Linked DNA regions of Homo sapiens: region 1 is linked to region 2. The links come from fine-mapping of genetic effects on plasma protein levels. A gene starts in region 2. The other region holds a variant in brackets. All regions are shown on one strand. Distances are from middle to middle.

Region 1 (8,697 bases), 19 kb before region 2:
GGAAGTACTTTCTAGCTGTTCATCTCAGTAGTCCTTTCTCCCCAGACCCCTTCTGTGGCTTACATCCAGTGATGTGCAATCTCTTGGCTTCCAAGAAAAATCTACCAAAACTAGTTTAGCAACTTTCATTTCCTGGCTTGGGTGGGTGGAGGGCAGAAAACGACCAATAATATTTTTACTGCTCCAAGTAGGTGTCTTTCTGGATTCTGAGTTGGCCAAATTTTTTTTTCCCAGTATTTATTGATCATTCTTGGGTGTTTCTCACAGAGGGGGATTTGGCAGGGTCATAGGACAATAGTGGAGGGAAGGTCAGCAGATAAACAAGTGAACAAGGGTCTCTGGTTTTCCTAGGCAGAGGACCCTGCGGCCTTCCGCAGTGTTTGTGTCCCTGGGTACTTGAGATTAGGGAGTGGTGATGACTCTTAACGAGCATGCTGCCTTCAAGCATCTGTTTAACAAAGCACATCTTGCACCGCCCTTAATCCATTTAACCCTGAGTGGACACAGCACGTTTCAGAGAGCATGGGGTTGGGGGTAAGGTTATAGATTAACAGCATCCCAAGGCAGAAGAATTTTTCTTAGTACAGAACAAAATGGAGTCTCCTATGTCTACTTCTTTCTACACAGACACAGCAACAATCTGATTTCTCTATCTTTTCCCCACATTTCCCCCTTTTCTATTCGACAAAACCGCCATCGTCATCATGGCCCATTCTCAATGAGCTCTTGGGTACACCTCCCAGACGGTGTGGCGGCCGGGCAGAGGGGCTCACTTCCCAAAAGGGGCGGCCGGGCAGACGCACCCCCCACCTCCCGGAGGGGGCGGTGGCCGGGTGGGGACTGCCCCCCACCTCCCTCCCAGACGGGGCGGCTGACCGGGCGGGGGCTGCCCCCCACCTCCCGGACGGGGCAGCTGCCGGGCGGAGACGCCCCTCACTTCCCAGACGAGGCGGCTGCCGGGCGGAGGGGCTCCTCACTTCTCAGACAGGGCGGACGGGCAGAGATGCTCCTCACCTCCCAGATGGGGTCGCGGCTGGGCAGAGACACTCCTCAGTTCCCAGACAGGGTCGTGGCCGGGTAGAGGCGCTCCCCACATCCCAGACGATGGGCGGCTGGGCGGAGACGCTCCTCACTTCCTAGACGGGATGACGGCCGGGCAGAGGCGCTCCTCACATCCCAGACGATGGGCGGCCAGGCAGAGACGCTCCTCACTTCCCAGACGGGGTGGTGGCCGGGCAGAGGCTGCAATCTCGGCACTTTGGGAGGCCAAGGCAGGCGGCTGGGAGGTGGAGGTTGTAGCGAGCCGAGATCACGCCACTGCACTCCAGCCTGGGCAACACTGAGCACTGAGTGAACGAGGCTCCGTCTGCAATCCCGGCACCTCAGGAGGCCGAGGCTGGCAGATCACTCGTGGTTAGGAGCTGGAGACCAGCCCGGCCAACACAGCGAAACCCCGTCTCCACCAAAATACGAAAACCAGTCAGGCATGGCGGCACGCGCCTGCAATCCCAGGCACTCAGCAGGCTGAGGCAGGAGAATCAGGCAGGGAGGTTGCAGTGAGCCGAGATGGCAGCAGTACAGTCCAGCTTCGGCTTTCACAACTTTGGTGGCATCAGAGGGAGACCGTGGAGAGAGAGGGAGAGGGAGACCATGGGGAGACGGAGACGGAGAGGGAGAGGGAGAGGGAGCGGCCAAACATTTTAACTGTTTTTCTGTGGCTCCTAGTTTGACTGCAACCCTGGAGTACGTGGAAGAGAAGACAAATGTGGACTCTGTGTTTGTGAACTTCCAGAATGATCGGAACGACAGAGGTGGGGATCTGCTGTTCTTCCTTGCTTTTCGCGCTGAGGCAGCTGGATAACTCCTTTTCCTTTATAGGAGACCCTCTTCCCCTGTCTTTAAAAATGCACCCTCAGGCATTTCAGGGATTCTTTTCTTCCCACCTACCACGAAGGTGGGAAGTTGTAACTTGTTCCATCAAGTTACAACTGGACTCTGAGGAAGCCCCTGCAGGTGGTGTTAGGGGCCAGACTGAAGGAGCACTGGTGAAATTACACAGAATCCATTCAAGGGATGTGGCCAGCAGGACAAAATGGATCTCAAACATATGGAGCACCTACAATGTGAAAGGGTCAGACATAAGGCCAAGGGAACGGGGACATATTTAACCGGATGCCTGGAGCATATGTTACAGAAACTATAGCCTCTTGCCTCAAGGAGCTCAAACTCTGTTGGATATAAGGGATGGTGAATAACCATTCATAAGTGATAGATACTATTTCAGAGCTTACTATGTCATCATTGTATTAGTATATAGGTAGACCTCACTAATCTCTAGTGTTAAGCACTTCATGAACATCTCATTTCATCTTAAATTCTGTGAGGAGGAAGGTTCTATGATTTATAAATGGAAAATTCTATAGATGGAAACTGAAGTTCTGCAGGACTAACTCACAGAACAAGTGTTAAAACCAGAGTTAGAGCCTAGGTCTGTTGGACTAAAGCACATCCTATATGCCTGCACTACACTGCTTCCCAGGGCCACTCCCTAGTGGAAGAAATCAAATCTGGGGGCATACATGTATTGAGTTTTAAAGCATGTTCTAATCATTTGTTCTATCCTTTCACAGGTGCCCTGCTGCGGGCCTTCAGCTACATGGGCTTTGAGGTGGTCAGACCAGATCACCCTGCCCTCCCTCCCTTGGACAATGTCATCTTTATGGTGTATCCCCTTGAAAGGGATGTTGGCCACCTGCCCAGTGAGCCTCCTTGAACATGCTTATTCCAACGCTTTGAGGGGCTGGAAGCCTTGACACATGGAATCAGGGGCCCGGGATGTGATTCAGGACACTTTCCATCCTAGGAATAAAGGGTAGTGCAATCATCAAGTGTTCACGGTTTCTTGGGGGGGTGGGTAATAGGGTTGACTGGAGTGGGATATACACCTTAACAGAGCTAAATTCACTGAAAAGATCACAGGGACCTGAACTACGGAGGAAAGTACCTAAGGATTTTTGGTTCCCTTTGCCTTCCTCCATGCCCCAAACTATTTCCCCATTTATTCTAACCATTTACTGAGCACTAATCAGTGAACTTCCTAGTTCAGAAAGACTGAGCTTTGTTAGGCTGTTTTTATCCATATATTTCAGTTGAGGTGCTATAGATGTGGAGAAAACCAGAGAAGGCACATAGATCTCTTGGCTTTGGCCCAAGTTGGGGGATCTCAACGGACAGAATAGGTAACATAGAAGAGGGCATTCCAGGCAGCAGGAAAAGTACTGGGTTATACTAACAGAATGACAAAGAACCCATCAGAATGGGCTGTAAACAGGTAAGACTTAAAGGCATATTAAAGAAAAAGACTTTTATACATAGTAACAAACTGCAGGTAAGAATGAGACATTACTCATTTTCCAGGGTAGGAAGTCTTATGAATGATTTATATCAGGGAACCTCTAAAGAGTAAAGGTTCCCTACGGAACTCTGGTAGCACCAGTTCCAGGGCTGAGCATGCTTCAGCGAGTTCATTGCAGGCAACATCTGAAACATCAAATAAATGGAAGCTCCTTAAAGATTCCTCCAAGAGTACCTGAACTACTCACCAGAACTGTTCCTTCACTAGAGCCTTTCTGCTAATTGGGACTGAGATTTTTCTTTTCTTTTTTTGGAGACAGCATCTTGCTGTGTCACACAGGCTGGAGTGGAGTGGTGCAATCTTGGCTCACTCACTGCACCCTCTGCTTCCCTGGGCTCAAGCGATCCTCCCACCTCAGCCTCTCAAGTAGCTAGGACCACAGGCACACACCACCATGCCTGGCTAATTTTTTTGTATTTACGGGTTTCAGCATGGTGCCAGGCTGGTCTCGAACTCCTGAGCTCAAGCAATCTGCCCGCCTCGGCCTCCCAAAGTGTTGGGATTATAGGTGTGAGCCACC[G/A]GTGCCTGGCTAATACTGAGATTTTTCTGAGAAAATAAATTTTGAGAATTGTGGTTGTGAGAAAATATAGTTGCCATGTAGTATAGAGGTAGACGTTACTAATCCCTAAATTTAAAAAAAAGACCTGTGTAAGGCATCCTTATGTGCTAGTTTTAAATTTTCTAGTTTATCTTGCTTTATCCTTAAAAAAAATTCACTTGCCATTTTTCTACCATCCACATTACTATACATTTATATTTACTTTCAAGCACCTCAAGTACTTCAAGCCTCGCATTTGAGCCTCACAGTACTGTCAGAAAGATGCTATAAGGAAACACGTTAAAATTTTGCAAAAAGTTTACAGTGGAGATCTACTCCTTAAAGATTCCTCCAAGACTACATGAGCTACTTACCAGAGCTGCTCCTAGAATCCAGGTTTCTAGAATCTTAATCTGGGCCTTTTCTTTTGAATAGTATAGGTGGGGTCTTACTCACACAGCCTAAACCTAAATTGGTTCTGGTTCCTAGTGAATTTTTTTTTATGAGACAAGGTTGTGTGGTGGTGCAATCTGGGTTCACTGCAACCTCCGCTTCCCAGGTTCAAGTGATTCTTGTGCCTCAGCCTCCCAAATAGCTGGGATTACAGGTGCCTGCCACCACGCCCAGCTAATTTTTGTATTTTGTATTTTTGTATTTTTTTGAGACAGAGTCTCTCTCTGTCACCCAGGCTGGAGTGCAGTGGCATGATCTCAGCTCACTGCAACCTCCACCTCCCAGGTTCAAGCAATTCTCCTGCCTCAGCCTCCCACGCAGCTGGGACAACAGGTGCATGCCACCATGCCTGGCTAATTTTTTGTATTTTTAGTAGAGACAGGGTTTCACCATGTTGGCCTCAAGTAATCTGCCTGCCTTAGCCTCCCAAAGCGCTGGGATTACAGGTGTGAGCTACCGTGCCCAGCCAGTGAATGGTTATTTCTGAAGTGACTTTAGAGAAAGAATATGAATGTGTATATGGGAGGGACACTTGTTTCATAGATGTGATCCTTTCTGTGAGGCAGTTGGCAGTTTTCACCAGATTTAGGCTCACAGCCTGCTTCCACCTTGTGATTCAATCAGAATTTGGTTTTAGAAAATTTTCTTGAGAACTTTATTCAGCAAAAAAATCCTCCAAATGATTCAAACAGGACTGTATACTCTTCCTCTCTCTCCACGGGTGTATATGTGTGTATACATATAGATATTATACTAGCAATTTAGAAAATTTCCTGAGCCTCCTGTCTCCTTTCTACTTATATTTTAACTAAAGGTTACAGAGAAATAGCTGGAGCAGTTTCAAAAGCCTGTCTCCAATAACATATCAGCAATTGAGGCTGGGAGGCAGTATTCTCTTCCCACTTCCTGAGGCTTTTAAATATAATTATGCTAATTTTTGCCTTTGCCTCCTGATTCAACTGGAGTCTTTGAGTTCACCACTCAAAAGCTTTCCTTAACCAGAGTCACCTGATAAGGTGAGTCAGAAGTCTGCAGAATCACTTCCAATGACGAAAGCCTGACTGTTTCCCAGCCTCAAAAAGGATACAGCCTAGTAGTAATGTGAATCATGACTGGTAGAGGGGACTGAGCCTGACGTTGAACGGCCTGGAAGTAACACAGCAGTATTCAAACACTGGAGGGTTGGGGAGGGATCCGGAGGTGGAATGGGGGAGACACACTTGTAGCGTGGTAGTCCAATTTTTTTGTAGTCTGATGGGAGGAGAATATTAATTTGGTCCACAGCAAGCCAGACTATATGTGTAATAAAGGAAGGACTGCATGGATCCTTTATCATACACTCCTCTCCTCCATGCACCAATTCCTATGCCAAATCCTGCCAAAGACAGAAATACACAAAAAGCTTGAAAGTGCTCAATCTGAGAGCAAGTTAAGCTGCAGGAAAGCAGCTGCAGAGAAGTATATTAAGACAGGGCATGGGAAAGAGGGAATCAAAGCAAGTGCCCCACTGTCGCCCTCATTACTTTCCTGTTGCTACAGATAGATGATAGCTGCACTCACACAGCAAAGCAGATGGCTGAGCAAACTGAAGCCCAGACTTCAGAGTAAGTAGTCATCTTCAAGGTTATCATCACCAGACATGGAAGCAGCTTCTATTGAAGATAAATAAGAAGGAGAAAGTTAGACACTGCCCTATTCTAGCAGGCAATGCCAGCGAGGCTCAAAAGAAAAATGGACCTCTTGGTACTCAATGACCTGACTAGGAACCAAGCCTTCAATTAACCTCCCTACTCTGGAAAGACTGAATGAGAAAAGTTAATCTCCAAAGATGCTCTAGGGAGGAAATACTGCTTGTACCTGATAAGCTGAGGCAGGACAGGGTATGTGTTATCTCTCCAGAGCTCTTTTTGGTCTCAGTGAGCAACGTGCTGAGAGAGGCATCTGTTTCTGTGGCCTGAGTGGATGAAAACAGGAAAAAAGGAGGAACATGTTGGCTTTTAGGAAAAAAGAGGCCACCCTTTCATTCTTCTCATAGGACCTGGTTAAGGCAGTTGCATTTGGCTACCAAGAGGGACAAAATGCTCCTTTGGTCAACTACTGGAGGAGCTCAAAGTCCTTAGGAAAGCTAACACAGTATCAGGACTAGAAGCCCTTAGTGTCTATGTGCTAGATTTGCCTGGAAGCAGCACCCTATATAACTACAATAGCTCACCATGTCCTTCAACATGTCTGGGACAGCTCTGTTTTCTTCTATGTCTTCAGGAAGCTCAATTGCGTATCCTTTGTGTACTAATTCTAGCCCAATATCAAGTTTCTGAGAAGAAAAATGAAAAGGGAATGATGTTCTCTCAGTAAGCAAGGGCAAATTTGAGGAAACAAGGCAGAAGGACTGATACTTTAAAGACATTCCTTTGGTGAGATGGTGAGAAGGATCTTACAGTAAGAGTAATATCAGATAAGGGTTTCTGAGGAAGAAAAAGTAAATTAGGCTATAAATATACTGAAGATATGGCAAGCAGTGAGTGAATGCCAGTCTTACCTTCCCATTGCTAGTATCATATAAGTAGATCTTTGGCCAAGTTGAGATCCCAGTCTGGACATAGCTAGAGATCTTGGCTACCAGAGGCTTCCAGTCAGCACAATGAGTGAGTCTATCAAACTCATCCAAAGCTTCCTCTTCCCACTGGTCACCTGGCAAAAGATTGTAGGGGTTACTGCTGATAGGGGTGGGGCTTATACCCTGGAGGGAAGTTGGAACTACCCTTTTCTACTCAGGAAGGCACCTGTGTCTTCTCTGGTTGGGTTGGGTCTGCCAGGCAAGTTTCTGGCTGCTGCTAGTGCTGGTGAGGAAAAGGCACCTGAGTCCCCAGAATTCAAAAAGCCTGGGAATGTGAGAATTCCTTCCAATGAACTGTATGAAGTTATTCTATTTGGAGGTAAGCTCAATAGATGGCATGACCAATTTACCTGAGGGAGCAATCCGTGCCAGACTACATTCTATTGCTTGAAATGGAAGGCTTAGGAAGTCACTCCTGAAGTAAAAGAAACTAAAATTAGAATCCTGGGGCCAAAAACATCTTCTTACATTGCTGCTTTCAGAAAGAACCAACTAACATGAGACGATAACCATCTGCTCTCTGTAAACAGGTTCCCTTCCAAATCCCCCTGACAACTGCCAACAGCTCACCACCCTATGGCCAGAACTGAGTCAGCAGTTGGGATTGAGCTGACCTCAGCACTGACCTGAGAGCCCTGAGGTCCTTCAGTGGGCAATCTCCATTATCTCCAAAGTCAACAAAATAGAGGTCCAAGTTCCCATTCTCCAAGGTGCCGAGGACCCGGGCTCGATACCAGGAACCATTTGTAGGTAAAGGTGCTGCTACAATGTCTCCTACATGCACAGTCAAGTCTTCAGGCTGTATGTGGGGAGGAGGAGAAAGGCAGAGAGTTACAAAGTGGTAGGCTCATAAACAGAATTGCAGGAGGAAGAAAGAAAAGTAGTTGCTCCACAGGGAAAGGAAGAGTACAATGAAAAAGATATGCCTTCTTTTCATTAAACCCCAGCCCTGTCCCTATGGCAACTCACCACACTATTCTCATAGTGCTGGGTCATCTCATTGACAAGCTTATCCAATTGCAGGCTGCGGGAGCCAACGATCTGGATCCAGAAGTGGTTAGGGTGCTCAGAAGCAGAAACGTAGACTTCTAGGTACTCATCAGCATGAAAACTGAAGTCAGGACTGGGGACTGAACACAGAGATAAGGATGGTGGCCACATCAGACCCATCTCTGGTTGGAATGAAGAGACTAACCAGGGTAGTGAGAGGTACAAATACCAATGGCTGTTACCATTTTAAAATGGCAGGAGAGGCAACTGGATGAATCAAACAAGAATATCCTAAAGAAAGATACTAAGCTATCCTTTGTACCTTTCCATGTAACTGAGTAATAACAGCTTACATTCTTTGTCATGTGCTACATAGTCAAATCGGTCACCAATTATACAGAAGGTAAACCTCCATATGCTAGCTACAGCATGGATCAGTAAAAAGGTATATGGACAGCAATCTTTACATGGACAGTGACGGACATGGACCTGTTCCAGATCCCATTCTACCACTGACTCTTTACATGACCCTGGACAAGTCTGTGAGCTTCTTGGGAATCCAGGTCCTCTTTGCCCACGCCAAAACCTATGTACAGAAGAGAAAGCTCACAGCCTTTTCAATAGTGATGATTTTTAAAAACAGTAATGAAAAAGGCAATATAAAATCTGGCTGAGAATTTTACT
Region 2 (8,572 bases):
CCACTGCGCCTGGCTTAGGTATTTTCTTATATGACCACTAAAGTGCAAAGCTTGTTTCCATTATTAATGCATCTTGGTTAAATAGTGCTAGCTCTTTCTTGTGTGCTGAGCACGTTGGGGACAGAAGGAGGAAGAAGAATTTCTACTTGGAAATATTCATAGTCTAGGAAACATAAACACCAAAACAGGCTGGGCACAGTGGCTCATGCCTGTTAATCCCAGCACTTTGAGAGGCTAAGGTAGGAGGACTGCTTGAGACCAAGTATTCAAGACTAGCCTGGGCAACATAGTGAGACTCTGTTTCTACAAAAAAAAAAAAAAAAAAAAAAAAAAAAAAATTAGCTAGGCGTGGTGTTGCACACCTGTAGTTCCAGCTACTCAGGAGGCCGAGGTGGGAGATGGCTTGAGCCCAGGAGGTGGAAGCTGCAGTAAACTGATGACACCACTGCACTCCACCCTGGGCAACAGAGCGAGAATTTGTCTCAAGGGGTTTAAAAAAAAAAAGTATAGGGCAAGATGTGTGTAGGTTATATACAAATAATATGCATCTTATACAAGGGACATGAGCATCTATGGATTTGGGTTCTGCAGGGTTCCTGGAACCAATCCCCTGCAAATAACGAAGGGAGGGACAACTGTATAAATTCTTGGTCAATGCGACAGTTGAAAGTAGCTAGAACCTTAAGGTTTATTTCTTAGATGGTGTATAGTTGAAAATCATCTCATTAAAATACAACTCACTTTTCTTCCGCAAACCTATACTACATGAATGAACTGCACTAAATGGACATTTATTCAAGCCAATAAATATCGAATTCTGATGTGTGCTTGACCCTCGGGACACAACAGTCAAGATAGATTTGGCAGCTGCCTTCATGGAGTTTCCTGTCTGGCAAGGAAGATCTTGACAGGCAGGAGTCTTTAGGTCTTAAGGGCTTTGGGAAACTGAAATCTAGCCCTGTGAACAAGAATAAACTGGATCTGTATTTTCATGCTGTCTGCTTTTAAAAACTGGCCATAATTGATGCTTATGGGGCATAGAAATCACAAGATTTTATAACTAGAAGGGACTACAGAACTTATTTGATTCCATTAATAACGTTGCAATTTGGGAAACTGCGGCTAAGGGATAGAAAAGGATTGATCTAAGATCACACAGCTCATTAGTCATTTCTACACAATACAGTGTGCAATAGAAATAAGTCTGTTTTGATGGCCAGTCATAATCACACCTCTTTACAGAGGCCCAAAGGACTAGCAGCACTTTTGTTTTCCAGTTCTGACACTATCAAGATCAAGTGCAGAGGGGTCTCTGCAGCCAAGGCCCCTCAATCTCGACCCCCTACACTGGGTTGAATTACATTGCTATGGGTTTCCACAGAATCCCCAATATCCCTTGATAACACATGCCATGCTTGTCATTCTTGATTAACATCTGTGTCCGTGGTGAGGAGAATGAATTGAAGGCAGCAACCGTGGCTGCAGGAGACCAATCAGGGCCTAGTCCAGGTGTCAATGATGGAGATGGAGAACAGATGAATTGGAGAGTTTGTTGTTGTTTATTTAGAGACAGAGCCTTGGTCTGTCACCCAGGATGGAATGCAGTGAATGATAATAGCTCACTGCAGCCTTGAACTCCCGCAGTCGTCCGGCGTAGCTGAGATTATAGGTGCGGTTTTGGCCGACTTCTATTTGAAGCAAAAGGTAAATTTCACTAACTCCTCTTCAAACATTACAAATGAATTTGTGCTAATTGAGTTATCAGCTGATGTCTCAAAAAATGAGACTCTACTTGATCTGTCACTATGGTTTTGTTCACAATTTTCATATCCTTTCAGCTATAAGTTTCTCTTAAAGAGAAATGGAAAATAATATAATGTAAACGGGGATAACTGCATAGTACTGACTGCTAGCTTGTGTTTGATTTTATTACTTAAAAATTGAATGGGAAGGAGGAAAATACTAGAACTTAAGACCACAGTTTCTAGGGGAAGCTAAGAAGAGAAGATGAGGATCATTGTTCAGTGAGGAATGTGGTTAGATAATGGTTTTCAGTGAAAGCTAACTTTGAAATTTCCTGACATTTGTATTGAACAATTGCCAAAAACTATCTGATATGCATCGCTAAGGCTTACTTTATCATTTAAAATGACAGGAGTCAAATAGGATGTGATGAGAAGTCAAATCACATTGTTAGCTCCATGAAAGCATAGATAACTCATTCCAGTATCTCCTAATAACCAGAACCTACAAAGAACCTACAACATGGTGACATGCTTGAATCGAAGCAGCTCAATGTTCTCATCCTTGGTACGTTTATTTTAAATTCACGAGAAAAAAAAAAGTGTCAACCCCTTTCTCTCAAAACAAGGAAAGGGTCTAAAAGTCAGTCTTTGAAATAGGGGTCTCCAGCCAACCCCCACGATGATACCTGGATTAAGGAATGAGGGATACTGGAAAAACAAAAACCCCAATGTATTATTCTGACGACTGTAAACAGCCATCCTATTAGCGATAACTAAAGAAAAAGCTGGGGAAAGTTAAAGGCAAAGTGATATACGGATGGCAGCTCTCAGTCTCAAAAAGGCCCAGTGGAAGAGTCTGAACTGACTCAGGGCAAACACAAACGCTCCCGCACCGGGTCCGTTGTGGCGTAAGCGGGTGACTGGAGCATCTTCCTCAGATACAGTTACGAGTTCCCAGTGGGTCAAGTTGCCCCCGAGCGGCGTCTCACAGCCCAGGGCTCTGACTCCCCCGCTGCGCCCCACATCCTTCCCTCGCCCCGGGGCACGCCAGACCCCTCCCTTCCCTCGCTCCCGCATTTCCGTCTCCTAGTGGCCAGGGCTGCCCATGACCCTGTCTTTCCCACTCCCCAAACCTTCGGTCTCCATCCTCGCCTTTACCGCTGCTCCAGTCAGCCGTCGAGTGCGCCGCCTCGCGCCTCACCCCAGCTGCAGCCACCAGCGCCGCCGCCTCCCACTCACACCACCACAGTGAGCCCCGCCGGCGGCGCTTCAGCCGCCACTTCCCCGCCCCCGCAGCCCGACAGCACCAATCAACACCCTGCTCGCAGTCCGACCAATCGCCTTCTCCCGTCACAACCAATCCTTCCGCGGGCTGCCCCTGAGCGACGTGGCTGCTGCTAGCCGCTGCCCAATTACCCGGATGGAATCCAAAGCAGGCCCACCCTGTCAGCCAATAAGATCCAGGAAAAGCAGATGTTGTTAACTGAGACCGCACCTGCTGAGAATTAAACAGCCAATTACAAGCTTCCCGGCGTCCTCGCAGACCACCTCTAGGCCAATTACCGAGGAGTTTTCTATCTTCTAACCCTTGGAGGAAAATCTGCGCTCCAGCAGCTGGGACCGAGGCATGAGAGCGTTGAATCATGAGTGGCACCGTTCGCAAAAATTGGTGTCTTTGTACAAAGACAGTGCCACAACACAACTCAGTGACCATCGGGAGAGCAGCCTCATGATGGGCGATGCTCCATCAGTTTTCTCTTGCGATCTTTTGCATAGATCGGTCCCGCCCCGCATATGGCGATGAGGACTCAAGAGACACGGAAAACGTTTTCTTTCTGGAAAACATGAAATAGGCTTTGTAGATGGACAGGAAGTCAAGGGACAAGCGGTGCGCCGCAGAGAGCGAGGACCCACTCTTCTATTCCTTTGCGGAGGCACGGACACACGGTGTGGCCCGAAACAGCGGCAGGAGAGTGAGACCCGGGCTCCGACCGCGGTGGTAAGGGGGCGGCGGGCCATAGGGGCGCCAGGGGCCCACCCTTCCCTGGGGATTCGAGGAAACGGGTCGAGGCGACAGCGTGAAGGCCTACGCCGGGGGAGGGGGTGGTGGCGGGGGGCGTTTCTGTGGGGGCGAGGAAGGGAGCGGGTCTCCGCAGGCGGAAGTTTGCTTTGGAAGATTTTATTCCAGACGCTGTCCTGGTCCCTGGACGGTTAGGAACGGTTGGGTCCTGCTACTGCCTCCGTGGGGCAGGGAGCCTCGCGAGACCAGCACTGCGCCCTACTCGGTCCACCCTGTCCCCGCTCCGCGCTAGGGGCTCACCCTGGGAACAGGGGTCGGGCGATCCTGGTCATTGGGGGATCTTCCGCACTAGCTTCCATCACAATACCTGGCAGGTGATGAGCAATAAATATTTGCTGAAAGAACGCAAGGTTGTATCTTTTGTCAATTAGGCAGATGCCTTTGGGCCTCAGGTTTTGCTTTCTATTAATATAAAAATGTGTATGCGTTTTGAATAAGTAATACATTTACATTCTACAAAATTCAGAAGAAACAAGGTTATTATAGTGAATAAATTTTCCTTCCTTCAAGGCAACTAGGGTTACCAGTTTCTTGTGAAAAATTTCACAAGATATTCTATAGTTAACGTGTGTATATGTGTAATATATAAAGTGTATATATATATACACACACATATATTTTTTTAACCCAGTTGATAACATACATACTATTTTGCAACTTTCTTTGATACAGTCTGGAAATGTTTCCGTAGCAGCATATACGTATCTGCCTCATAGTGATAGTTTCATAGTATGCCTGAGGGATATATGAAGATATATTTAACCAGTCCTTTAACATTTGATTGATATGCAAGGATACTTCATTTCCCTCTTGCATATGTGTATGATAAATACTTAGAAATGCAAGTGCCAAGTTAAAGAAATGTGTGCATTGTTTTTTCATTTGGATAGATAAAATTTTGTAAATTCCCTTCCTCCCACAAAGATTTTTATAATTTTAATCCCACCAGCAATTTTTGAAAATGATTTTAGTTAGTATTACCAAATTGCCTTCCCTGGAAATTTTACCAATTTTGTCTCCTGTCAGCAATGTATGAAAAGAACCTGTTTGATAGCACACTGGTGCTGTTAAACTTCCTGATTTTTGACAATCTGATAGTGTAAATGCTATCTCATTGCAAGATAAAATTTCATTGCTCTTATAAGTAAAGTTGAGCATCTTTTAATATATTTAAATGGCAATTTTTTTGTAAATTCTCTGTTTTTATATTCTGTTCATATTTTTATTGGTTATAGGGTCATTTCTTAATACTTGCTGTTTGTATATAAGTTAAAAGTATTTTCCCCGGCCAGGTGTGGTGGGTCACGCCTGTAATCCCAGCACTTTGGGAGGCTGAGGCAGGCTAATCACCTGAGGTCAGGAGTTCAAGACCAGCCTGGCCAACATGCTGAAACCCCGTCTTTATTAAAAATACAAAAATTAGCCGGTTATGGTGGCAAGCGCTTGTAATCCCAGCTACTTGGGAGACTGAGGCAGGAGAATCACTTGAACTGGGGAAGCGGTGGTTGCAGTGAGCCGAGATTGCCACTGCACTCCAGCCTGGGCAACAGAGCGAGACCCCATCTCCAAAAAAAAAAAAAAAAAGTATGTCCCTTTTCCCAGTTTGTTCTATGTATATTGTTTATACATATAACAAGTATTTTCCCTTTTCCAAGTTTGTTCTATGTATATTGCATATTTTGAGGCTGGTCTCCAACTCCTGACCTCAGGTGATCAGCCTGCCTCAGCCTCCCAAAGTGCTAGGATTACAGGCCTGAGCCATTGCCCTCAGCCTGTTTATGGTTATTCTTTGCAAATGTTAAAAATTTTTATGTAATTGAATTTATCAATATTTTCTTTGATAATTTCTGGGTTTCTTTCTTTCTTTTTTTGAGGCAGAGTCTCATTCTGTCGCCCAGGCTGGAGTGCAGTGGCATGATCTTGGCCCACTGTAACCTCTGCTTCCCAGGTTGAAGAGATTCTCGTGCCTCAGCCTCCTGAGTAGTTGGGATTACAGGCATGTACCACCATACCTGGGTAATTTTTGTATTTTTTAGTAGACTCGGAGTAGTTTTGCCATGTTGGCCAGACTGGTCTCAAACTCCTGGCCTCAAGTGATCCACCCGCCTTAGCCTCCCAAAGTATTGGTATTACAGGCGTGAGCCACTGTGCCTGGCCAACTTCTGTGTTTCATATAATTTTTAGTAAAGTCTCCCACTATTTAAGATTATTCTTAAAGCTCCTATGTTTTTTTAAAAAGTACTTTGATAGTGTCTTTGTATATGTAAATATTTGATTCATCTGGAATTTATTTTGGTGTAAAGGTGTGAGATAGAGATCCAATTTTGTTTTGTTTTATTCAAATCCTTCTTATTGAATAACCCATGTTTTCTCCATTGTTTTTGAATGCTACCTTTATAATACCAAATTGCCATATGTATTTGGGTCTATTTCTGGATTTTTTTCATTTTGTTCCATTGATCATTAATTTTTTTTTTTTTTTTTTTAGACGGAGTCTCACTCTGTCACCCAGGCTGGAGTGCAGTGGCACGATCTCGGCTCACTGGAACCTCCAACTCCCTGGTTCAAGCGATTCTCCTGCCTCAGCCTCCCGAATAGCTGGGACTACAGGTGCCCACCACCACACCTGGCTAATTTTTTGTATTTTTAGTAGAGACGGGGTTTCACCGTGTTAGCCAGGATGGTCTCGGTCTCCTGACCTGGTGATCCGCCCGCCTCGGCCTCCCAAAGTGCTGGGATTACAGGCATGAGCCACTGCGCCCGGCCTAAAAATTTTTTAAATTGTATACATTATGGTTTTTTTTTTTACCACAATTTAAAAAATTAATTTATAATATACATGCAGAAAAATGCACAAATGACAAGTATATATCTTGATGAATTTTCACAAATGGAATACATTTGTGTAACCAGCAGCAGATCAAGAAACAGAACATTGCTAGTGCCCCAGAAGCCACTTGTGTGTTCCCTCTCAGTCACTGCTCTTCTCAAGGACAACCACTCTTCTGACTCCTGATACCATAAACTAATTTTGCCTGTTCTTGCTTTTTATATAAAGAGAATCACAGAGTATGTACTCTTTTGTGTCTGGCTTCCTTTGTTCAAATTATTTCTGTGAGATTCAGCCATATTGTGTATAGTTTTAGTCCCTTCATTCTGACTACTGTGTGGTATAATATTGTGAGGCTATATTGAACCATAATTTACTCTTCTATTCTGTTACTGTTATTTTGGCTGGAATCACATATTTTTAGATTATCTAAAGGAGAATGTATGATAAGAATCTTCCTATCTTCCTATACATTCAAGTCATTGGTACCCCATCAGTAGAATTTTAGTTTTCATTATGTAGAATTTACATACTTCTTATTAAAATTATTCCTAGGTATTGAGTGCCTTGATTGCTATAGCTATTTTTACTTTAAAAAAAGTAAAATGGTAGTTCAAATCCAAGGAAGAATGTGTCCAGTGTTGCTATAAAAATACAGACCTACTTTATGGGTCCATCTTCTTCTAGCTCCAGTGAAGGTGGGATGGGCAAAAAAGAGGAAATGAAGTCCAAAAAGGGGGTTACACTTTATAGTTAAACCACAAGAGGAATTTATTTCTTTTTTAAGACAGAGTCTTGCTCTGTTGCCCAGGCTTGGGGCAATGGCATGATCTCTACTCACTGCAACCTCCACCTCCCGGGCTCAAGCGATCCTCCTGCCTCAGCCTCCCAAGTAGCTGAGACTACAGACATGCACCACCACACCCGGCTAATTTTTGTCTTTTTAGCAGAGATGGGGTTTCACCATGTTGCCCAGGCTGGTCTCCAGCTCCTGGGCTCAAGGCATCCACCTGCCTTAGCCTCCCAAAGTGCTGGGATTACAGGAGTGAGTCAGTGTGCTCAGCCTCACAGGAGGAATTTCTTAATCAGAGCAGTGAAAAGCCAGGTGGCATCACTTTTCCCGGATTTTTTTTTTTTTTTTTTGAGATGGAGTCTCACTCTATCATCCAGGCTGGAGTGCAGTGGCACGATCTTGGCTCACTGCAACCTCTGCCTCCCGGGTTCAAATGATCTTCCTGCCTCAGCCTCCCGAATAGCTGGGATTATAGGTGCACACCACCACACCCGGCTAATTTTTGTATTTTTAGTAGAGATGGGGTCTCACCATGTTGCCCAGGCTGATCTTGAACTCCTGATCTCAGGTGATCCACCTGCCTCAGCATCCCAAAGTGCTGGGATTACAGGTGTGAGCCACTATGATCTTATTTTAAAATGAGATTTATTTGATCTTATTTTAAAATCAGATTGAATTCTAACTTGCTGGGTAGGGAGGTTGGGGAGCAGAAGAAATAACTTCGAGTGAGCTGATGCCAAACTCACCCTCAAGTCACTGTACATTTGGGATTTGTCATCTCATTTCTCCTCTCAGATCCCAAATCAGGATTGAAAGATTGAATTGTGAGATGCTGGGATTGAGTGAATTGTAATTTCTTTATTCTCATCTCCAGTCCTAAGAGTCTATTCTCTTTCCCTGAAGGGTGTTCTGAACAGGCTGTGGGAGGCATTAGGTGGAGTGAGTTAAGATAAGTTCTGGGTTTCCCAGAGGGTTCAGTGAGCAGGTGTTCCCTTTAGTAAACTGAAGCAGGAAAGAAGATCTTAGCTAGGGATCTGGGCAGTGAGGGGCTCTGAAATACAAGGAGCCTGGCTCCGGAGCCTTGGCTGCCCACAGAGTTCCTTCCCTGTACAACATACGAATGA

Direction of the effects. Positions count from the first base shown, and alleles are read on the strand shown. Strength reflects both the effect of a copy and how common the allele is.
For the plasma level of the protein whose gene starts at base 2,999 in region 2, allele G in region 1 goes with a lower level than allele A (strong association).

The links. PIP is the posterior inclusion probability: the model's chance that the variant is causal. Protein levels are from antibody-based Olink assays in UK Biobank. Linkage for the fine-mapping came from a reference panel and not from the study's own genotypes, which makes the PIPs less certain.
Region 1: its variant is fine-mapped to the plasma level of the TDRKH protein (UK Biobank, PIP above 0.99).

What each region holds. Positions count from the first base shown.
Region 1 is chr1:151,768,447-151,777,143 of GRCh38, forward strand. OAZ3 (ornithine decarboxylase antizyme 3) reads left to right here. Exons shown (of 5, transcript NM_016178.2): 4 at 1,726-1,811; 5 at 2,631-2,884. The coding sequence ends at 2,773. It overlaps TDRKH (tudor and KH domain containing), which reads right to left. Exons shown (of 13, transcript NM_001083965.2): 7 at 7,993-8,153; 8 at 7,650-7,822; 9 at 7,374-7,438; 10 at 6,946-7,097; 11 at 6,619-6,720; 12 at 6,264-6,360; 13 at 5,048-6,058. The coding sequence ends at 6,006. Among named protein-coding and RNA genes, the nearest start is that of OAZ3, 6.1 kb to the left of the region's middle. RefSeq lists enhancers at 624-1,320, 1,321-2,015. The variant G/A (reference allele first, on the strand shown) is at 3,936.
Region 2 is chr1:151,787,502-151,796,073 of GRCh38, forward strand. It overlaps TDRKH (tudor and KH domain containing), which reads right to left and starts at 2,999. Exons shown (of 13, transcript NM_001083965.2): 1 at 2,879-2,999. It overlaps TDRKH-AS1 (TDRKH antisense RNA 1), which reads left to right and starts at 3,248. Exons shown (of 2, transcript NR_146292.1): 1 at 3,248-3,744; 2 at 6,314-6,901. RefSeq lists a silencer at 2,684-2,943.